Homo sapiens: one gene and its partners. The protein of the gene in region 1 interacts with the protein of each later gene in a pairwise test. Each region holds a gene or a part of one and is shown on either strand. Other genes may lie near its edges. The genes, in order: NDUFAB1, SMYD3, RBM18, HINFP, NRF1, ZNF829 and EIF3B.

Region 1 (3,500 bases):
TTATAGGCACACGCCACGATGCCCGGCTAATTTTTGGACTTTCAGTAGAGATGGAGGTTTCACTGTGTTGGGCAGGCTGGTCTTAAACTCCTGACCTCAAGAGATCCGCCCACCTTGGCCTCCCAAAGTGCTGGGATTACAGGCGTGAGCCACCACACCTGGCCTCGTACCATTTCTTGATAAGCACACAGCCTCTGTTAGATCCCTCCAACTGAAATTTCTTTTCTGCCATTGCCATATTACCTCATTTCTTCTCCCCCTTTCTCTTTATTCCTTTCTTCTCCATTTTATTTGTGACTTGGAAACCTATTTGAGTCATTGTTAAGTAGGCCGGTCATGTGCCTGTATAAAAGGTCTCCTTAACCCATGTATAATACGAAAGGAGACTAGACATTTAGACAAAGAAACATGCTCTAAAACTCTTGAAAGTACTCAGAAAGGCTCGTTAGAATATCTATCATACTCTCCAACTCATCTCTTTAGTTTGCTGATTAAACCTGATTTTTTTTTTTTTTTTCTTGAGACGGAATCTCACTCTGTCACCCATGCTGGAGTGTAAATGGCATGATCTTGGCTCACTGCAACCTCCGACTCCCAAGTTCAAGCGATTCTTCTGCTTCAGCCTCCTGAGTAGATGGGATTACAGGCACATGTTACCACGCCCAGCTAACTTATATTTTTGGTAGAGACGGGGTTTCTCCATGTTGGTCAGGCTAGTGTCGAACTCCTGACCTCGTGATCCGCCTGCTTCGGCTTCCCAAAGTGTGGCAATTACAGGTGTGAGCCACTGCGCCCAGCCTAAACCTGATTTTAATAACTGACTTCTTTTTCTTTTCTTTTTTGAGACAGAGTCTCGCTCTGTGGCCCAAGGTGGAGTGCAGTGGCACAGTCTCGGCTCACTGCAACCTCTGTCTGGGTTCAAGCAATTCTCATGCCTCAGCTACCTGAATAGCTGGGATTACAGGCACACACCACCACGCCCAGCTAATTTTTGTATTTTTAGTAGAGACGAGGCTTCACCATGTTGGCCAGGCTGGTCTCGAACTCCTGGCCTCAAGTGATTGGCTCACCTCGGCCTCCCAAAGTGCTGGGATTACAGGTGTGAGACACACATCGGCCCAATACCTGTTCTTTATGCAAGATGAATGTTTCTTCTACAGAGGTTATACTGGTTTGGTTCTCTGGGCAGTATTTATTATGATTTTTCATGGACCTTTGTGAGTTTCAGGGACCTGAGCCCTAACAAGCAGCCCCACTTTCTATAGGGAAATGCCTGAAGAACGCCAAGCCTCGGACTTAAAATCAACTTCAGGAGGTAAACAAACCAATTTAGATTAGGGATTTCTTTCTTTTTCTTTTTTTTGAGACGGAGTCTTGCTTTGTCGCCCAGGCTGGAATGCAATGGCGCAGGCTCGGCTCACTGCAACCTCTCCTCCCACATTCAAGCGATTCTCCTTCCTCAGTCTCCTGAGTAGCTGGGATTACAGGCGCCCACCACCACGCCTGGCTAATTTTTGTATTTTTAGTAGAGACGGGGTTTCACCATGTTGGCCAGGCTGGTCTCGAACTCCTGACCTCAGGTGATCTGCTCACCGTGGCCTCCCAAAGTGTTGTGATTATAGGCGTGAGCCACCACGACTAGCCAGATTAGGGATTTCAGTAGTGAGCAAAACTGCCAGATACCCTGTTTTGTTTTCTCTGATTCTGCGTCGTACCTTCCACAGCATTAAACCCCCTGACCTGTAATTGCAGCTCATTCCACATTTGTTGAATGAAATCTGGTCAATACCCTAATACCTAAACATTGAGCCGACTAATACCAGAGATACGTGAGGTATTGCTCTAACATGGCACAGGCCAGAAGGGCTCATGGTTTGGCTGGTGGCCATGAGGCAAGCCTCGCTGGAAGGGAAACAGATTGGAATGTAGTGACTGTAAGCTCCCTCATCCCCTCTTTGGGTGGGAGGCCAGCTTCCTTTGTCCTGGCTGAGATCAGGGAGATAACTGCTGGAACCAAACTAGACCTTTCTGGTGTATGGTCCTCAATTTGAATTGCCTTTGGGTTTACCATGACAGCTCTTTCCTTTTGGGTTATTTTGACTTGGGTCAGCCTATTAAAGGTGGCAGCACCCTGTAGAGGCCTCGGGATGCTGAAGATGCCATGAGAAGACACAGGCATTCTGCAGACGCTAGACAATTTTAGTGGCAGTTAGTGTCGCAGAGCAGTATGAATGTCCAGAGCCTGAGGGTTGAAGCCAGGAGGCAGAGGGGCCGGTCCTGACTCCCAGGAAGGAGGCCTGAGATGCTGCTGAACTGTTGGGGCTTCTGCGATTACCCAGTCCTGCAACTTAGTGTGTCCTGGTGGCCACAATGAGAATCAGATGCTGTGGGTTCTCTAAAGCCCCGAAAGTTCTGTGAAAGTTACCTATAGGCTTGTGCATTGATTTAGAGGTATTTTCCATTCAATGACAGTGTTTCCTTCCTGCCGTCGCTCTAGGTTCCTGGTAGAGTTACACAGTTGTGCCGCCAGTATAGCGACATGCCTCCTTTGACGTTAGAGGGCATCCAGGACCGTGTTCTTTACGTATTGAAACTCTATGACAAGATTGACCCAGAGAAGGTAACTGATGGTGGTTTGAATTTTTTTCTTTAAATATAGAGTATTTAATTACATGCTAGAAAATGCAAAGGGAAAGATACTCAGTAAAAATCTCCCTGGCTCCCAGACACCCAGGCCCATTCTGGGAGATAGCCAGCGCTACCAGTTTCATGTATGTTTCCAAAGGTACTCAATGCATATGTTAAAGAAGTATACACACGTGTGTATATTATATGTATGTATCTCTCACCCTTTTTAAAAAACACAACTGGCCGGGCACTGTGGCTCATGCCTGTAATCCCAGCACTTTGGGAGGCCGAGGCGGGCGGATCACCTGAGGTCGGGAATTCAAGACCAGCCTGACTAACATGTAGAAACTTCATCTCTACTAAAAATACAAAATTAGCCGGGCATGGTGGCACATACCTGTAATCCCAGCTACTCGGGAGGCTGAGGCAGCAGAATCACTTGAACCCGGGAGGTGGAGGTTGCAGTGAGCCGAGATAGCGTGATTGCAGTCCAGCCTAGGCAACAAGAGTGAAACTCCATCTCAAAAATAATAATAAATAATAAAAACACAAGTGGGGCCGGGCGTGGTAGCTCACGCCTGTAATCCCAGCACTTTGGGAGGCCGAGGCGAGTGGATCATGAGGTCAGGAAATGAAGAGCAGCCTGGCCAAGATGGTGAAACCCCATCTCTACTAAAAATACACAAATTAGACAGGCGTGGTGGCAGACACCTGTAATCCCAGCCACTCGGGAGGATGAGGCAGAGAATTGCTTGAACCCGGGAGGGAGAGGGTGCAGTGAGCCGAGATCATGCCACTGCACACTGCAGCCTGGATGACAGGGTGAAACTCCATCTAACAACGAAAAAAAATTGAATCTGTTGTGTAGGTAA
Region 2 (3,500 bases), on another chromosome or scaffold:
AGCTTATTCATATTCTGGATTTTGAACAGTTCATGTAACTGTAACTTTGGGGTAGTGGATAATGAGACTGAAATTAATGGTTCCTCTGCTGGTTTCCGTCTGTTTTTTTTTTTTTTCTCCCAGGAGGTTGGTATTTCTGCACTTAACCACCTGATGTTTTTAGGGGGAGTATATCCCAGATAAATTCTGTTGTAAGTCAAAGAGCATCCATGATTGGCTTGGCTCTTTCTTAAGCAACTACTAAGATGCTCCTACATTTGGGTTTGAACGTTTTTTATTCTCTTGGCTATGAAGTTTCTTAAGTGACTCTAGTAATACTGATGGTTCCCCTTGTGTTTACAGGTGATCTGCAACTCTTTCACCATCTGTAATGCGGAGATGCAGGAAGTTGGTGTTGGCCTATATCCCAGGTATGGTGTATGGTACTTCATGTACTGGAAGACACACTTTCATTCCCACCCAAATCCCCAGCCCTTTGGAGGTAGTTAGAAAGGCAGTTGCTGCAGCTTGTTCAAGAGCCAAGCTTAAAACTTAGCAATAAATTACAAAAAAATGGAAAATGTTAAGTTGAAAGAAAACAGTTTTATAACCCCACATTATATGCTGTGATATTAACAAAGGGGCAGATCTCAGAACTAAACTCTTGTTCTCAGGGGGACTTTGGGTGAAGAAGTTGAGGACGGTGGGTGCTAATTAACCATCGGGCTGATTTTTGGTTATTCCCCAGTTTCCTGAGCTGCAGCACATGCTGATTTCACCGGACTTGCCGTACGTATCAGTTGGGTTCATGTTGTCTTTCGAGTTGGCACACTCTGAGCCCTTTCACTCAAGGAGGCAAGAAAACTCTCAGGCTTTGGCCCCTGAATGCTCTCTCCAGCTATTGCTGAGCTGACTCTTACCACTGAGCTATGAAACCGTCTCTCCACAAGCACTATAGGCACACCCAGTTTCATTTTGTTTTTATGCCATAAGAGTCCAAATACAAATTTAGACTTTCTAATAATTGTGAATCTAAGAATTCAGCCTTTTTTCTTATTTCTCACAATTGTCATTAACTGTAGGTCAGGTCTACTGGTAGGTGGTTCTCAAAAGGCAGTAACATAGGATGATTCAAAGCATGGGCTCTGCGTTCAGGCCACCTGGTCCAAATTCCATCACCACTTACTAGCTGTATGTCCTTGAGCAAGTCATTTAATTTCTGTGCATCAGTCTCTTTACCTGTAAATGATCCTCATAAGATTGTTGTGAGGATTAAATGTGATGAACATGCTCAAGTGCAAGAAAGTGTTTCTACATAGTAAGTGCTCATTCTAATTATTACCAATTCCTGATAGCAGCTTAAATCCATTTTGTTTCCCAGATGGTAAGAAATGTCCCTCCAAGGTAATAAAATGACTGGACCATGGCCCAGGATGCATCAGGATGTAGGTGGCAAAATAACGTCAGCTCTCTATTTAAGAGCAAATAGTCCTAATTATTTTTCAGTGTGGATGTTCTAGCAAAGGCGGCCATTTCTCCAAAGGAGCTCAACAAATGAGATCCTATGGGAGAGGTCAGTGGTATCTTGGCTGCTGCATCCCATTATGTCTGAGTATTTTTTTTTTTTGAGATGGAGTCTCACTCTGTCACCCAGGCTGGAGTGCAGTGGTGCGATCTCGGCTCACTGCAACCTCCGCCTCCTGGGTTCAAGCGATTCTCCTGCCTCCACCTCCTGAGTAGCTAGGACTACAGGCATGTGCCACCACACCCAGCTAATTTTTTTGTATTTTTAGTAGGGACAGGGTTTCACCATGCTGATCAGGCTGGTCTCAAACTGCTGGCCTCAAATGATCCACCCACCTCGGCTTCCTAAAGTCCTAGGATTACAGGCGTGAGCCACCACACCCAGCTGTCTAAGTATTTCTTTCTGAGTCAGTTTCTTTCTGACCTTCGTGTTGGGTTGCCTTATTGACTGTTATCTAATCAGTCAACTATGCCCCAATCCCCAAAAAGGACTCAGGAAATTTTTTTATTATTAAATGACGGAATTCCCTAGTTAGCCTGCATCTTGAGGAGAATTGCACTTCGTGGGAGGTGTGCTAGTGACATTTCTGTGAATGCATCCCCGAGTACTGAACCCCTGGCATCCTGTCAACCCTACCTGCTGCTGCCCCCCAAAGGAAGGTGTATTTTACCCACTGCATTTGTTAAATTTAGTTGACTCTACCTGCTGAGCTGTGACAGTCTTCCCCCCTTTTTTTTTCCAGTATCTCTTTGCTCAATCACAGCTGTGACCCCAACTGTTCGATTGTGTTCAATGGGCCCCACCTCTTACTGCGAGCAGTCCGAGACATCGAGGTGGGAGAGGAGGTAAGGAAACTCATGCTTCCCAGCCTGGCCTTCTTTCCTATCAAAGACCCTCTCAGCTCGGCCCGTCCCTAAAACTGATTGTGCCTGAGGGGACAACTTTTCATTGTCCTTCTGCCAGTGAGAGTATTTGTAGTTCAGTCACCTCTCCCCAGCAACCTATCCTTTCTTCTCCCAAATTACAAATGGGCTAATTTTTTAGGGGAGAGGTCACCATATTTCTGGATGATGACAGTTCCTGTCCTGTGTGTGAGAGAGAGAGGAGTTTGTGTATGACAGAGGGTGTGTGTTTTATGCACACACAGGGAATTCATGAAATCTCCTCAGTGGCAACAGCTGAGCAGCCTCTCATATCCTTCCGTGGGCAGGGGGGGGCATCCCAGCTTGTGAGTGGGATCCCCAAGACTTCTTCACTCGGAAGGCCACTGGCTACATTGAAGGTAATGATGCATGTTAACTTTGTGCTAGTAAAGCAAACAGCTTATACTGTCTCAGGCTGACATTGGGACTTGACAAACCCATCAGCATCTCTGGGTGATCATTTCAGCAAAGATGCAAAGGGAATAGAGGACAGGGAGGATGACCTCCAGCAGTGAACTGGCCTTGACCCCTCCAGTTTGACAGACTGTCCAGCCAGCCTCTTTTGGTGCAGAACCTTCTTACAAGACAGCTGCAAACGGGCTGCTCCAGGGCTCTGAACCTAAGCTTGCACTGGTTTGCACAGTGACTACCCATGCTGAGTTCTGAGTTACAGATATTTCTACTTTCCAGAACCCCGTTTCCTTCTCCTTTCCAATTTGCTAAAGTGGATATTTATTGCAAGGAAAACAGTACTGAAAGCTTTTATTGCATTTATGCAGCACTCAGCCAATAAAACCTCAACTCAGAGGTACCATATTTTATGTAGACAGGGATTTGGCTTTGACAAGATTCTCCCCAAACTGATTTTCAGTGGAAGGAGCCACTTCTTATACAACTACTCGCTAAATTTCCAGATTTTAGGACCAGTGTATGAAATATACTGGGATAGATGTCAGTGAGATGGACAATGTAGTTTTTTCTCTTTTTTTTCTGGGGCCGCAAAGGACTTCAAGGCAGGTAAGAGATGAAACCGCTATCTATTTTCAGCAATATTCATTTGGGGGCTGAAGAGC
Region 3 (3,500 bases), on another chromosome or scaffold:
TGGGTGACAGTTGTTGAACTGAAGTATCATGTAGTAATAGAGACTTTGGCCTCCTGCCCAGTCAGCCTCTGGCTTCAGAGGAGGAAAACTTTAGTTTCTCCACACAGAACCACGCCCCTTTCACCTTAAATGGCAGCTTGTGTGCCCTGGCTGCCAGAGCAGTTGTCCCAAGGGAACTGGTTCTGGGGCCCTGGTTGTGGAATCACTGAGGCCTTTGAAGGACTGCCCAGAGGGCATGCCCTCCTTGAATAAATGTTTGTTGAGTTGAATTTGAAGTCTTGTGTTCACACATTGTTACTCCCCTCCTGCCTGAATGTTCACATTTCCTTTAGTATTTCATAGACATTGATGGAAGCAGAAACCAAAACTCTTCCCCTGGAGAATGCATCCATCCTTTCAGAGGGCTCTCTGCAGGAAGGACACCGATTATGGATTGGCAACCTGGACCCCAAAATTACCGAGTAAGTCTAAGTTACCTTAGTTTTTTACCTACAATATTGGGATGTTTTGTGGTGATGATGTCAAGAAGAATTTTCAAGGGGTGTGGGATATACTTAGACCCTTTTACTTACATCGTGTCTTCGGAGAGATAAGATGTTGTTAGCCTGTTATCTTGTCACTTTTTTTACATTTGGACTCTGCTACTGCAAGGACACAGACTTGGGTATCCTTTAATCCATATACCTGTTTTTTTCCTATCTGCCAAAGACGTTCTCCCATTTCCAACTATTTGAATCCTTGTACCTAGTAGCTCTAGGGAATTATTCTCTAGAATCAGCCTTGGGAATACATTTGTACCCAGAATAAAGGAACAAGCAGAAGTCTCAGTACCTTTGCAAACAGGCAGAGGAGACCACTTGACTGTAATTCATATTAAGCAGCCATAGAACTATAGAAGGTCAGAGTTGTAAGGAACCTTAGAAATCATGTCCCTTTGGTTTTCATTCATTCATTAAATGATTTGAGTGCCAAGTGCCATGCTAAGCAGTTTGCAGACTTCTTAAATCTGAAGAACCCTGTCTTAGAGTAAAAGTAATAATCAGAGCTGTATATAAAATAAGAGCTCAGAGTTGCTCTGACTAAAAGGGAGAAGAGATGGAACCAAAATCTTTTGTCAACTACTACCCTTTCTTTGGCCATCCCTGTTTAGGCTCTGTAGAACTTCCAGGGCTCCATAGAGCACACTTGACAACCTCTGATGGGACCCAGCTTTTTTATCCTACATAGAGGAAACCAAGTCCCGAAAGACAGAAGTACCTTGCCCGAGTTCACGAAATTGATTGAATTGCCCTGACTCCCTGCTCTTTTACATCACAGCCATTAAGATGAAAAGGAATTTCTTAGCTGAGAAAATTGAGAGGTTTTTCCCTTCTGCCAGTTATTTGATAGAGGGAGGGTGGTGGTTGGTGGCAGAGTACAATGAGTGGATTGGCCTGTATGAGGTCAATGCTGAAAGCCAGTTTTTTTGTTTGTTTGTTTGTTTTTGTTTTTGTTTTTAAGACAGTCTTGCTCTGTTGCCCAGGCTGGAGTGTAGTTGCACAATCTTGGCTCACTGCAACCTCCACCTCCTGGGCTTAAGCAATTCTCATGCCTCAGCCTCCCGAGTAGTTGGGACTACAGGCATGCGCCACCATGCTGGCTGATTTTTGTGTTTTTAGTAGAAATGGGGTTTCACCATGTTGACCAGGCTGATCTCGAACTCCTTACCTCAAATGATCCACCCACCTTGGCCTCCCAAAGTGCTGGGATTACAGACTTAAGCCGCCATGCCAGGCAGAAAGCAAGTTTTGAGCATATCATCAGTCCTAGAAGTTACTCCCTTTAGAATAGTGTTAAAGACAAGGGGAGGCCGGGCACAGTGGCTCACGCCTATAATCCCAGCACTTTGGGAGGACGAGGCAGGCGAATCACTTGAGGTCAGGAGTTTGAGACCAGCCTGGCCAACATGGTGAAACCCCGTCTCTACTAAAAATGAAAAAATTAGCCAGGCATGGTGGTGCATGCCTGTAGTCCCAGCTACTTGGGAGGTTGAGGCGCGAAAATTGCTTGAACCTGGGAGGCGGAGGTTGCAGTGCACGGAGATTGTGCCACTGCACTCCAGCCTGGGCGAAAGGTGAAGGGAGGAGATGAGGAAACCTGCTTCTTTGAGTATGAGATGAGACAAGGTATATATGAGAGTTAAGATTAGGAAAGAGAAGAAAAGGATATAACCTTATAAATCAGGATTATAACAAAAAGTTCCTTAAACCTGCTCAAGCTCATATCAGCCAAATGTAAATATATTCAGTTCCCTTAGAAATTATGACGGTATTTAAGATGTGTTGCCCACATATTATGTTATCTTGGTCACAGGGACCCTAGAGTGGATTGCATTTATTTCAGTTCTCTTTTACGGTTCATGGCTTTTGAGGGTGAGTATATGAATCTGTCCAACCTCTCAATTAATGTCTCTTCATCAAAGAAATTTTTTCCATCATCCAAAACCCAGGCTATGAGGGGATGCTCATAGTGGTTTCCATTCCCACCTCTGCCTGTCTAAATGGAAATCTAAAGTGTGGAAACAGCGTTGGTTGTGTTGGCTGCACTTCTCTGTAATGAGACTTTTGTTCTAATTGTGTCCTGCTGCTTGACGGGAAGGTTCAAATGGGCATTTGCCACCTCAGTTTATGTCATAAGTTGGAGTGTGTGGATGTTTTTTTCAATTAGAACATTGGCAGGAACATTGAATCAGAACTTTCCCACTGATATCTCTGCTCTTTTTACATCAGGCCAGAGGTAGACATCAAGTAATAAACTAGATCAGAGCATGCTGGCTGGAAGTGCTGGGCTTTCCCTGTGGCTGGCTTCTCCACTTCTGTATCACAAAAGACCATTTTTATTATTTTTTCCTATAGATTCTTTTTTCTTCTTCTTCTTTTTTTTTTTTTTTTTTGACAGCTCTGTCACCCAGGCTTGAGTACAGTGGCACAATCATAGCTCATGGCAACCTAGAACTCCTGGGTAGCTGGGACTACAGGTGCTCGCCACCATGCCTGGCTAGTTTGTTGTTTTTTGTTTTTGTTTTGTAGAGACAGGGGTCTCAGTATGTTTCCTAGGCTGTTGTCAAACTCCTGGGCTTAAGCAATCCTCCTGATCAGCCTCCCAAAGTGTTGGGATTACAGGCGTGAGCCACTATGCCTGGCCATCCTATGGATTCTTTACCTTAAAACATTTTATCTGTCAAACAGACTGGTTTATTAAATTGTAATAAATTTATGCTTAAAGATATAACTACCACTGAGCACGGTGGTTCACACCTGTAATCCCAGCACTTTGGGAGGCCGAGGCGGGTGAATCACAAGGTTAGGAAATCGAGACCATCCTAGCCAATGTGGTGAAACCCCATTTCTACTAAAAATACAAAAATTATCCAGGCGTGGTGGCGGTTGCCTGTAGTCCTAACTACTCAGGAGGCTGAGGCAGGAGAATCACTTGAACCCGGAGGGCAGAGGTTGCAGTGA
Region 4 (2,490 bases), on another chromosome or scaffold:
GCATAAAGGGCAGCAAACCCAGGCAGGGGGATACAGAAATGGCCGAGGCTGGCAAAGTAAGGAACAAACATGAGGGATGGAAGAAGTCCTGGAATCCAAGTGACAGGAGTTGAAGACAAAAAAGGTCTTTATTGGAATATGTAGAAGAAAAGGCAAGAGGGAAAGATCATTACTCAAAATGGAAAGTTTTATATAGAAACCCAACCAGAAAAACAGAGACTGACTGACTGTGTTGGAGGGTGAAAGTGTCAAAGGATTTATGAGAAGGCCTTGGAGCTAAGGATCAGAACCCTTAGACTCTAGCTCTAGTTCCAGCTGCAGGACTTTTTGGCACCATTTATTGGGTTTGGCACCATGCCTTACAAGATTCAAAAAACAGAAAAATAAGCTTTGCTCCACCATTATTCTTAGGATTCTTTGAATCTAAATGGAAATGGCAGACATAAAACCACCATCAAATTAAGGTTTTATTTATTTATTTATTTATTTTTGAGATGGAGTCTCGCTCTGTCACCCAGGTTGGAGTGCAGTGGCATGATCTCAGCTCACTACAACCTCCGCCTTCTGGGTTCAAGTGATTCTCCCACCTCAGCCTCCCAAGTAGCTGGGACTACAGGCATGTGCCACCATGCTCAGCTACTTTTTGTATTTTTAGTAGAGACGGGGTTTCACCATGTTGGCCAGGCTGGTCTCGAACTCCTGACCTCATGATCCGCCCACCTTGGCCTCCCAAAGTGCTGGGATTACAGGCGTGAGCCACCGCGCCCGACCCAAATTAAGGTTTTTAAAACTGGTTGAAAAGGTATAAAAACAAGTGTGTTAATCTGGGAAGGAGGGTTGAGAGACATACCGAAAACGGGGATGCCCTGAGGGCCACTTGAACTGGTGCTTCTTGCGAAGGTGCACGGTGAGGTTGTTGCCCCGTGTGAAGCATTTGTCACACACATGACATTTGTACCTTGGCTCAGAGTCTCCCTGATGGGGAAGGAAGGGAGAAATGAGACCAGCTCTTCACCCCAGGGTCCCCCATACTTCCACTAGTCCTTCCCAACACCAGCCCCACTCACTTCATGTACTTTGCGGTAATGGGACTTGATAGAGCAGAGGGATCGGGCACTGAAGGTGCAGTTCTCAAAATCACACCTGTAGGCTGGCTCCTCGCTGTGGGTATCCAGGTGCTTCTGGAGGTCAATAAGATTCTTGCAGCTGCCATGAGAAATCAGGAGGGATTGGAGGACATGGGGAACACTGGAACATGAGCTGTTTTCTGGTCCCTGGTCCCCCTTACCTGTAGTCACAACAGTCACATTTAAAGGGCCGGTCCTCACTGTGACGAAAGCGCATGTGGTTGCGGAGGGAGGAAGGCAGCGGGCAGGTCATGTCACACAGAGGGCACTTATAGTGATTCACTGAGAGAAGCAGAGAGGAGGCTGTGATGTGAGAACTTGTGGAACCTTGGAGGGCAGGAGGGAGGCTGTGGGCCGCAGGCCACTCACCATGGTTGCGCATGTGGTCCCGCAATAGCCGCTCTGTGGCAAATCTCTTGGAACAGTGAGAACACTGGAAGTGCTGCTCTGGGGTGGGGCAGGCAGAAGAAAGGAGGGCTGTAGGTGATAGTGGAGAGGCACAGAAAGGAGAGGGGAACCATCCCAGGCAGAAGGGAACCACCCAAGGAGAAAAGGAGAGCTTAGGGAGCTATGAATGGACACAGTATCATGGAAAGAGCATGGGACTTAGAGAACCTGAGTTAGAATTCCAGCTTCACCACTTACTAGCTGTGTGATCTCAGGTAAGTGATTTAACCTCTCTGAGCCTCAGTTTCCTCATCTGCAAAAAGGGGGATAAGAAGCCTACCTCATGGGGCTGTTGTGAGGATTCCCTAAGTAACTGATACGAGGTACAGTAAGTACTGAATAACAATGCCTACGAATCTGAATCAGCAAAGAGACTATGGGAGGTGCCTGAGCCCAAAAAGAAGAGGCAGCCAAAAGGCAGGTCTCTTCAGTGGCCACCCCCACTAGAAACATGCCCCTAACCCATTCCAAGCAGGACAGCCTGCATCCACCCCACTTCCTCTGACTACTTACGATCCAATGAGGTCTGGCGACGGATGTGATCTAAGAACTTGGTATTGTTGGCAAACATGCCCCCACAGGTGGGGCAGGCTACCACTTTCTCCTGGGTATGGCTGCGGAGGTGCTCTCGAAGTTTACTGCGGTCCTTGAAGGTGCAGGTACAGCCTGGGAAGGAAGCCCTATCAGTCTCCTGCCACAAAACCCCAGTTTTGCCTAGGATCTGGTACCCCTGAGTCTCTCCAGCCGGCAGTCAACCTTGCCCCTGTAGGACCCCTATCCCTTTCTGTCCCAGCTCTTCAGGAACCCCAGCGTTTCCTCCAGAAGCCACAAGTTAAGAAGCAGCCCTACCTTTCCAGCCACACAGCACCACCGGGTTGTCCTTGCCGACTGCTTCGTATTCACAGCACAGACTGTG
Region 5 (3,500 bases), on another chromosome or scaffold:
CTTCTGTGCGGACATCACTCCGGACATTTGCCCAGGGGATATCTTCAGGCCACCAGATGGGCTTGCAGCTTTCTTTCCCCCAGCCTGGTTTTCCCCGACCTGTAGAGTACTTGAGCATCTCTGGGATAAATGCCCGAAGCTGGGCCTGGAAGAGAACAGTGTGGTCATCAATACTCATGAAAGACATCTGGGGTGTGTTTATGACTCCTTAAATTCTAACCTTATAAAACAGAGAGGTTTCCAGGAAGGTCCCAGAGAATTCTAAGATGTGACTGATGAAAACCCACTGTTTTCCATAGGTTCCTATATCTCCATGGGTGGTTGAGAATTATAAATATGTTGATAAAGTGCACCTTAGGCTGCATTTTGTAGACTTGTTCCTCTAAGAGTAAGAATATCTACCCCTAAGTTTAATTTCTGCTTCCCAAGATATTACTGGTACTATAGCTTATTTCCCTTCTACAGTTTTCATGCATGTAAGGTGCCAAACTCGGGGTGTTTTCAACACTGTTCTGGAAGTAGGAATCCATGCAATTAGATAAGAGAGAAATAAGAGGCGAGCTGATAAAATCATTATTATTTATAGATGAAGTCACCTTATATCTAGAGAATTCCAAAGAGATCAAATGAAAAACTACTACAAACAATAATGAGAATTCAATAAGGTGGCTGATTATAAAATATAGGAAAACAAACAGGCCTTTAACTTAATAAAAAGGGAAAATAACCCTAAAACTCTTCTAGAAATTTTCCAGTAAGCTAGGCCACTGTCCATGAGTCTGACATATAGACATAGTAAAGCATGTGTGAATTTAAATGCATTATGGACTTCATTCAGATTTATTTTACAAATCAAATCCAGACCAAACAGGTTTTAAACCACAAAGACAACTGCCATTCTTATTTCCTGGCATAGTAACCACACTCTGTGTGTGTTGGGGGAGGGTCTACTTTGTGAATATTCTTAATCGCTGATAATGATTTCTGGCAAGAAAAGCAGTTTATCAATTTATGATCTATTCCTCCTTCCCAGACCTACTGTCTTCCTTTTAACCTGGTGGTCTATAGCACTCCAGATATAAGTAGCATCCTGCAACTAAGGATGCACCCATACTGCCCCTGCAGCTGAAAACCAAAAAGAGGCCACTTTTAGCAATGAATCAGACTCGGGGGTGTGGATTTGTAGTTACAAAGTAAAACAAGAAAAAACAGAAATGAGAATAATTAAGTATTAATGAGAGAATGAGTACAGCAACACTTTAATATTAAAGATTTCTATAAATATCAGGTATTCTTATCATTCTTATAATAAATATTAGATATTATTTTACGAGAAGATGATACAAATTGTTACATAATAGGGAACCATGAACCCAATCAGTAATGTTGACCTAATAAAGTTCTGGTTGACGGTAGCCATGCTGTTAATTCCTGTGCCAAGCCTGCCACTTCACCTCTCTAAGTCCCCCAATGCCCCAACAGTCTCCTGCCTACAGGATATGATATAATACACTCCATATATATTTGGCTCTGGCATCAAGCAGCAGGCTGATAGAAACGTATCCATTTAAAAACCCATCAGCTGGCTCATGCGGTCATTACTTCAGTTATTTTAAGAAAGTACATCTCAAAGTCATTTTTCCCTTTATTCTAATTTCTTGGGAGTGTGTCTTTTTCTAGGCTCAAATACATAGAGCAAGAAAGGGCTTAATCTTCACACACAATATTTTATACTTCTTCATGTTAAAAAAAATGGCTTTCTCAGAGGTATAGATTAAATTGATATAGACTTTCATAAACTCCCTTTTCTTTGAATACCATTAACAGTTTCCAAAAAGGAGAATTCTTTATATTCATACCTAGGAGAGTCTGGAGAAAATGAAATGAGAAGGCTAAATAATTCTAAATTAACAAAATCCTAAAGTGGGTTGGGTGCAGTGGCTCATGCCTATAATCCCTGCACCTTGGGAGGCTCAGGCAGGCAGAATGCTTGAGACCAGGAGTTTGAGACCAGCTTGGGCAACACAGTGGGACTCTGTCTCTACCAAAAATACAAAACTCAGTCGGTTACAGTGGCACGTGCCTGTAGTCCCAGCTACTAGAGAGGCTGAGGCAGGAGGATCGCTTGAGCTCAGGAGGTCAAGGATGCAGTGAGCCATGATGGTGCCACTTCACTCCAGCCTGGGTGACAGAGTGAGACCTTGTCTCAAAACAAAACAAAACAAAACAAAACAAAAATCCTAAAGCGGGTGACAGAGCAAGACCCTGTCTTAAACCAAACAAACAAAACAGAAATCCTAAAGTGATCAGAAAGCACTCACTGTGGAGAATACTAGACTGACAGAGTCTGCTCAGATCCACCTGGAACCCTCTATATTCCCTAATTCTGGTGATCGCTTCACTTCTGACGCCTCACCCTATTTGCACCAATAGTTCCTTATGCTCCTCAGTTCTGGGTCACGTTGGCACCTGGACGTGGATATCTTTCACCCTCAAGTCTTCCTTCGGCTCTCCCACCAGGCCTTCCAACTGAGTTCCAATAACTCAATGTTACTTGAAAGGTGGGCTCAGCATCAGCCTCTTCACTTAAACTCCTACCCTACCCTCTCTCCAATCTACTTGTCTTCTCAACTTTTTTATCTTAGCAAGTAGAAAACCACCCTTTCCCCGGCCACTCAAACTAAAAATGTCAAAGTTATCTTTACTTTTCTCCTTCAACACTTACCTAGTCACACATTGCAAGTCCAGTTCTTTTGTTTTCTTTGAAACGTCTCTGGTGTCTATCCCTTCTTCTCCGGCCCCACCTTTATTCTAATTTTTTGGCCCAAGGCTAGTGTATCCTTCTAGTTGGCTTTCTTGGGAAACTCCAAGTTCTCCCTTCATTCCCTCTTCCCACATATCCTTGCCTGAGAGGTTTTCCTAAATGTTACCTACATAGCTCCAATGCTCAAAACACCTCCAAATGTCTTTTAACTATGGCAACTAAACTAGATCCTTCTGCCCAGCTTTTCAGACCCACCACAATCTGGCCTCACACTACAGTCAGTTCCCATTAATTCCCACCACTCAGCCTTGGTCCTCCATCAGACAAATCTCTGCACTGTCTTAAGAGCTGCTAAGCCCATTCCCGCTTCTTTGCCTTTGTTCTGTCCCCTGGCTGGACTATTTTCCATGCTACTATTCTAATGCCGCCACTCATTCTTTAGTGCCCAGAAAAGTCCTACATTCTTTGTGGAACATATACTAACTATTCATTCATTCTCTCTCTCTCTCTCTCTCACTCTCGGATCTTGCTCTGTGGCCCAGGCTGGAGTGCAGTGGCATGATCACAGTTCAATGCAGCCTCAACCTCCAGGGCTCAAGGGATCCTCCTGTTTCAGCCTTCAGTAGTTGGGACTAAAGGCGCATGCCACCATGCCCAGCTATTTTTTTTCTTTACTTTTCCTTCTTTTCTTTTTTTTCTTTTTGTAGAGAAGGGGTCTCCCTACATTGCCCAGGCC
Region 6 (2,334 bases), on another chromosome or scaffold:
TGTGTTTTGTCTCTATTTTCATTTATTTCAAAAAATTTTAAATTTCCACCTTAGTTTCATCATTGATCCAAAAATCATTCAGGAGCAAGCTGTTTAAATTCCATGTATCTGTTTTGAGAGTTCCTCTTGGTATTGATATCTAGTTTTATTCCACTATGGTCAGAGAAGATGTTAGATATGATTTTGTTTTTTTAAAATTTATTGATACTTGCTTTGTGGTCCAGTATATGACCTATTTTTGAGAATGTTCCATGCACAGAAGAGAAGAGTATATATTCTGTGGTTGTTGGGTAGAATGTTCTTCAGATGTCTGTTGGGTCCATTTGGTGTAGAGTCCAATTTAAGTCCAGAGTTTCTTTGTTGATTTCTGTCCCAGTGATCTGTCTAGTGCTGTCAATGGAGTGGTGAAGTCCCCTGCTATTGTTGTATTGCTGTCTATCTCTTTTCTTAGGTCTAGTAGTATCTGTGTTATGGATCTGGGTGTTGCAGTGTTGGGTGCATACATATTTAGGATTGTTTTATCTTCTTGTTGAATTTATCCTTTATCATTATAAATGACCTTCTTTGTCCTTTTTAATTTTTGTTGGTATAAAGTCTGTTTTGGCCATCACGGTGGCTCACGTCTGTAATCCCAGCACTTTGGGAGGCTGAGGCGGGCAGATCACTTGAAGTCAGGAGTTCAAGACCAGCCTGGCCAACATGGTGAAACCCCGTCGCTACTAAAAATACAAAAAAAAAAAAAAAAAAAATTAGCCGGGCATGGTGGCGCATGCCTGTAATCCCAACTACTTGAGAGGCTGAGGCACAAGAATCGCTTGAACTCAGGAGCTGGAGGTTGCAGTGAGCTGAGATCACACCACTGCACTCCAGCCTGGGCAACAGAGCGAGACTCTGTCTCAAAATAAAATAAAATAAAATAAATTTGACTAACAACTTATGTATAAAAGGAAATTACAAATATATTAGACAAAATCATTCTAACAGGGTATTATGGGTTGAACTGTATCCCCTAAAAAGATATGCTGAAGTCCTAACCCCTGGTACCGGTAAATGTGACCTTACTTGGAAACAGGGTCTTGGCAGATATAATCAAGTTAAGATGAGGTCACCAGGTAACCCCAATCTAACCTGACTGGTGTCCAAATAAAAGACATACACAGAGATACACAGCGAGAATGCAATGTGAAGATGGAGGCAGAGATTGGAATGGTGTATGTAAAAGCCATGGAATGCCAAGGACTGCCAGCTGTTAACAGAGGTTAGGAAAAAGGCATAGAACAGATCCTCAGAGTCCTCAGAAGGAACCAAAACGATCAGCACCCTTGAGTTTAGATTTCCAGGCTCTAAACTATGAGAGAATAAATTTCTCTTGTTTTAAGCCACCAAGGTTTTGGTACTTGGTACTTTGTTATCGTATCGTTTAAAAACGAATACATAGGAGAACCTTTGATAATATGTATCCTAATTTGTTCTCCTTACCTGTTTTAAAAAAATTATTATAAAGGTTAACAAAATGGTCTTACTTTACTGTCATTCAACCAGTATGAATTCCCTCATGGCGAATGAGGTCAGAGCGACTACCAAAAGCCTTTCCACATTCCTTACAGTCATAGGGTTTCTCACCAGTGTGAATTCTCTGATGTCGAGTAAGATTTGAGCCTTTATTAAAGGCCTTCCCACATTCATTACATTCATATGGTTTTTCATCTGTATGGATTCTCTGATGTTGAATAAGTTCTGAGCTCTGAATAAAGGCCTTTCTACATTCTTCACATTCATAGAGCTTCTCACCAGCATGAATTCTGTGATGGTTAGTAAGTGTTGAGGCACTATTAAAGGCCTTCCCACACTGCTTACATTCATAAGGTTTCTCACCAGTATGCATTCTCTGATGCTGAATAAGCCTTGAGTGTTGAGTAAAGGCTTTCCCACATTCTTTACATTCATAAGGTTTCTCACCAGTATGAATTCTCAGATGTAGAAAAAGTTGTGAACTTTTAGTAAAGGCTTTTCCACATACTTTACATTCATAGGGTTTCTCACCAGTGTGAATTCTCTGATGATCATTAAGGTTTGAGCAATACTTAAAGGCTTTTCCACATTCCTTACATTCATAGGGTTTCTCACCAGTGTGAATCCTCTGATGTTGAGAAAAATATGAACTACAACTAAAAGCCTTGCCACATTCCTTACATTCATAGGGTTTTTTACCAGTGTGAATCCTCTGATGTCGAGTAACGAGTGAGCCACGACTAAAGGACTTCCCATACTCCTTAGATTCATAGTGTTTTTCACCAAAATGAATTCTCTGATGTTGGATAAATTGTGAGTTTT
Region 7 (3,500 bases), on another chromosome or scaffold:
ACTTCAGGGATTTACCATTCATTTAATACTTCAATGTATTGCCATATTCTGATTTTGTTACTTGACCTAATAATGTTCTGTATAATACTTACTTTCCTTCAGTTCAGGATCTAGTCTAAGGTCACGTATTTTACAGATAATAAATTGTCCTTCCTCTATCACCCAGGCTTGGCGCCACCCAGTGGCACCATTGCAGGCTCATTGCAACCCCAGCCTCCCAGGTCAAGCGGTTCTCCCACCTCAGCCTTCCTGAGTAGCGGGGACCGCAGGCACACGCCATGACATATGGCTAATTTTATTTTTTGTAGAGATGGGGGTCTCACTTTGTTGTACAAGGTAGTCTTGAACCCCTGGGCTCAAGTGATCTCCTGCCTTGACCTCCCAGAGTGCTGGGATTACAGGCGTGAGCCACCGCACCTGGCCGAGCCGTGATTTTTGATCTAGCTAATCCGGCTGTCGGAGGCCTGCTAGGGAAAGGGGCGGTTGTGGGAGGCAGTGTGAGGCGAGCTGGGGCCACTCTAGGGAAAGGGACAGTTGTGGAAGGCAGTGTGAGGCGAACGGGGGCCACTCTAGGGAAAGGGGCAGTTGTGGAAGGCAGTGCGAGGCGAGCTGGGGCCGCTCTGTTTTCGCCCTCATGGGTTGTGTCTGCCTTCCCCTCTGGTGTTGTAAGGGACCGTCTGTTACACACTTTGTGTGAACTGAGTAAGCAGGTGCAGTAGCTCCAGACAAGCCAGCAGTCAGGTAAATCATGGCTGGGAGGAGCCCCCAGGCTCTGAAGTTTCTATCAGACCTGTGCTGGCTTTCGAACTGGATGGGACTTGTTTTTTTGTTTGTTTGTTTGTTTGTTTGTTTTGTTTTTTTTTTTTTTGAAACTGAGTTTCATGCGTCGCCCAGACTGGAATGTAGTGGCACGATACCAGTTCACTGCAACCTCCACCTCCCGGGTTCAAGCTATTCTCCTGCCTCAGCCTCCTGAGTAGCTGGGATTACAAGTGCCTGCCACCACGCCCGGCTAATTTTTGTATTTTTAGTAGAGACAGGGTCTCACCATGTCGGCCATGGTTGGCCAAGCTTGTCTTAAACTCCGGACCTTGGGTGATCCACCCACCTCGGCCTCCCAAAGTGCTGGGATTACAGGTGTGAGCCACTGCGCCCAGCCGTATTTTTTTAACTTGTTAGTCTTTATTAAACATGGGTAAAGATAGAGTTCCACACTGCGCCACCCTCTGGATCACTTAGCAGCCTTGTGTGGGATCGGTGAGATCTTCTGTGCTGATCTTGGAGAAACCGGAGCGCCTGCAGCGTATTGACACCAGAATGAACAAGCGCCGCTGCTTCCCGCTTCCGCTTGGGTCTCTTGGGGCCGGGCAGTGTGGGGTTTGGGGAGAGAGCTGGTTCCGCGAGTTCTGACGGCGTGTTCTGGCCGCACAGACAGACTGTGATCCTCTCGTGAGAGGAGGATAGTGTACAGTGTTGCCCTTCTCTTCTAGGTACCTGGTGACCTTTAGCCCCCTGATGGACACGCAGGATGACCCTCAGGCCATAATCATCTGGGACATCCTTACGGGGCACAAGAAGAGGGGTTTTCACTGTGAGAGCTCAGCCCATTGGCCTATTTTTAAGTAAGTGGACCATTGTAACGAGCTCTGTAGCCTTTGTCTTTTCATGGGAATACCCTGGCACTTTTGTTTTTCTTAGGTGGAGCCATGATGGCAAATTCTTTGCCAGAATGACCCTGGATACGCTTAGCATCTATGAAACTCCTGTAAGTGGCCTCAGTGATGGCAAACGCCCCGTCCGGTCCTTGCTTGTAACCGGGGTGTGGTGCCTTTCCTTATTTGTGCTAGAAGAGGAGGAGGAGGTTTCACAGATGCATAGGAAAGGCCTGTCTCCTGTGCCTTTTTAACTGCCCCTGCTCTGGGCAGAGCTCTTCAGTCACTCCTGCCCACCTGGCGCAGCCGTGGGAAGTCCTGGATGGGAGTTAATGCAGTGGGCTTCAGAACTGCAGTTCTGGGTGGCGGGTGGGTGGATGGGTTCACTGTCACGCTCTGTGTGCACTGCCCCCTAGGCAAACTCACATCAGACTCTTGTTTCCTTTTGTAAAAAGTTAGGTGTGTTTCTGAGACACTGACATGATTTGACTCAACTGCAGCCTTCCTTTTTTTTGGGCAGTCTATGGGTCTTTTGGACAAGAAGAGTTTGAAGATCTCTGGGATAAAGTGAGTATTCTTATCAGTTTGGTGTCTTAGTGTGTTCAGGCTGCTTAACACAATACCAAAAAAAAAAAAAAAAACACAATACCATAGGCTGGGTGGCTTATGACAGCTGAGATTTCTTTCTCCCAGTTCTGGAGCTTGGGAGCTTGAGGTCAGGGTGCCTGCAGACTGTCTGGTGACGGCCCACCTCCCTCCTAGTGGACAGCCCCTCGGTCCAGCCTTCCCTGGAGGAAGGCCTCCGTGGCCTGTTCTGTAAAGTCTCTCATCTCATTCCCAAGGGCTTCCCCCTCAGGACCTCCCACCCCCCAAAAGGCCCCACCCCATGCCGTCACCCCAGGGGGTTAGAATTTCACCCTGTGAATCTGGGGGACACAGACGTGGTCCATTGCAGTTGGTTTCCTTTATTTGCTGTCTCTCCTTTAGCACTCAGCTTTTTGTTGTTGTTGTTAGAGACAGAGTCTCGCTCCGTCAGGCTGGAGTGCAGTGATACGATCTTGGCTCGCTGCAACCTCCACCTCCTGGGTTCAAGTGATTCTTCTGCCTCAACCTCCCGAGTAGCTGGGACTACAGGCATGTGCCACCAAGCCCGGCTAATTTTTGTATTTTTAGTAGGGATGGGGTTTCACCATGTTGGCTGGGCTGGTCTCAAACTCCTGACCTTGTGATCTGCCCGCCTCAGCCTCCCAAAGTGCTGAGATTACAGGCGTGAGCCACCATGCCCAGCCTGTCACTCAGTTCTTAACCAGTTGGAGAGAAAACGGTGAGTTTGTTCTTTTTTTAAAATTTTTTTTTTTTTTTTTTTTTTTTTTTTTTTTTTGAGGCAGAGTCTTACTCTGTCTTGCAGGCTGGTGTAGAGTGGCGAGATCTTGGCTCACTGCAATTTCCACCTCCTGGGTTCAAGTGATTCTCCTTGCCTTAGACTCCCAAGTAGCTGGGACTGCAGGTGCCTGCCACCATGCCTAGCTAATTTTTGTATTTTTAGTAGAGATGGGGTTTCACTGTGTTGGCCATGCTGGTCTCAGAACTCCTGACCTCAAGTGATCTGCCCACCTCAGCCTCCCAAAGTGCTGGGATTACTGGCGTGAGCCACCACACCCAGCCATTTTTAAATCTTTTTTGAGACAGAGTCTTACTCTGTTGCCCAGGCTGGAGTACAGTGGCGTGATCTCGGCTGACTGCAGCCTTCACCTCCCAGGTTCAAACGATTCTGGTGCTTCAGTCTCCTGAGTAGCTGGAATTACAGGCGCGCAACCACTACGCCCAGCTAATTTTTTGTATATTTTA

The links.
Region 2: the proteins of NDUFAB1 (region 1) and SMYD3 interact in a two-hybrid assay, tested with the Homo sapiens proteins (one large-scale study listed by BioGRID and IntAct).
Region 3: the proteins of NDUFAB1 (region 1) and RBM18 interact in a two-hybrid assay, tested with the Homo sapiens proteins (one large-scale study listed by BioGRID and IntAct).
Region 4: the proteins of NDUFAB1 (region 1) and HINFP interact in binary tests that used the Homo sapiens proteins (3 or more experiments, as listed by UniProt).
Region 5: the proteins of NDUFAB1 (region 1) and NRF1 interact in binary tests that used the Homo sapiens proteins (3 or more experiments, as listed by UniProt).
Region 6: the proteins of NDUFAB1 (region 1) and ZNF829 interact in binary tests that used the Homo sapiens proteins (3 or more experiments, as listed by UniProt).
Region 7: the proteins of NDUFAB1 (region 1) and EIF3B interact in a two-hybrid assay, tested with the Homo sapiens proteins (one large-scale study listed by BioGRID).

The regions. Positions count from the first base shown.
Region 1 is NC_000016.10:23,586,317-23,589,816, reverse strand, and holds part of NDUFAB1 (acyl carrier protein, mitochondrial precursor), read left to right. Parts: intron 1-2,497; coding exon 2,498-2,620; intron 2,621-3,500. UniProt on the Homo sapiens protein: Carrier of the growing fatty acid chain in fatty acid biosynthesis.
Region 2 is NC_000001.11:245,926,780-245,930,279, reverse strand, and holds part of SMYD3 (histone-lysine N-methyltransferase SMYD3), read left to right. Parts: intron 1-342; coding exon 343-410; intron 411-727; exon of another isoform or gene 728-745; coding exon of another isoform or gene 746-768; intron 769-2,246; coding exon 2,247-2,349; intron 2,350-3,500. UniProt on the Homo sapiens protein: Histone methyltransferase. Specifically methylates 'Lys-4' of histone H3, inducing di- and tri-methylation, but not monomethylation. Also methylates 'Lys-5' of histone H4.
Region 3 is NC_000009.12:122,258,341-122,261,840, reverse strand, and holds part of RBM18 (probable RNA-binding protein 18), read left to right. Parts: intron 1-332; 5' UTR 333-348; coding exon 349-461; intron 462-3,500.
Region 4 is NC_000011.10:119,131,580-119,134,069, reverse strand, and holds part of HINFP (histone H4 transcription factor), read right to left. Parts: coding exon 2,424-2,490; intron 2,241-2,423; coding exon 2,088-2,240; intron 1,828-2,087; exon of another isoform or gene 1,773-1,827; intron 1,575-1,772; coding exon 1,497-1,574; intron 1,410-1,496; coding exon 1,289-1,409; intron 1,207-1,288; coding exon 1,068-1,206; intron 976-1,067; coding exon 851-975; intron 127-850; coding exon of another isoform or gene 1-126. UniProt on the Homo sapiens protein: Transcriptional repressor that binds to the consensus sequence 5'-CGGACGTT-3' and to the RB1 promoter. Transcriptional activator that promotes histone H4 gene transcription at the G1/S phase transition in conjunction with NPAT.
Region 5 is NC_000007.14:129,705,720-129,709,219, reverse strand, and holds part of NRF1 (nuclear respiratory factor 1), read right to left. Parts: intron 146-3,500; coding exon 1-145. UniProt on the Homo sapiens protein: Transcription factor that activates the expression of the EIF2S1 (EIF2-alpha) gene. Links the transcriptional modulation of key metabolic genes to cellular growth and development.
Region 6 is NC_000019.10:36,889,958-36,892,291, forward strand, and holds part of ZNF829 (zinc finger protein 829), read right to left. Parts: coding exon 1,535-2,334; 3' UTR 1-1,534. UniProt on the Homo sapiens protein: May be involved in transcriptional regulation.
Region 7 is NC_000007.14:2,364,827-2,368,326, forward strand, and holds part of EIF3B (eukaryotic translation initiation factor 3 subunit B), read left to right. Parts: intron 1-1,490; coding exon 1,491-1,622; intron 1,623-1,698; coding exon 1,699-1,765; intron 1,766-2,107; coding exon of another isoform or gene 2,108-2,131; exon of another isoform or gene 2,132-2,146; intron 2,147-2,172; coding exon 2,173-2,219; intron 2,220-3,500.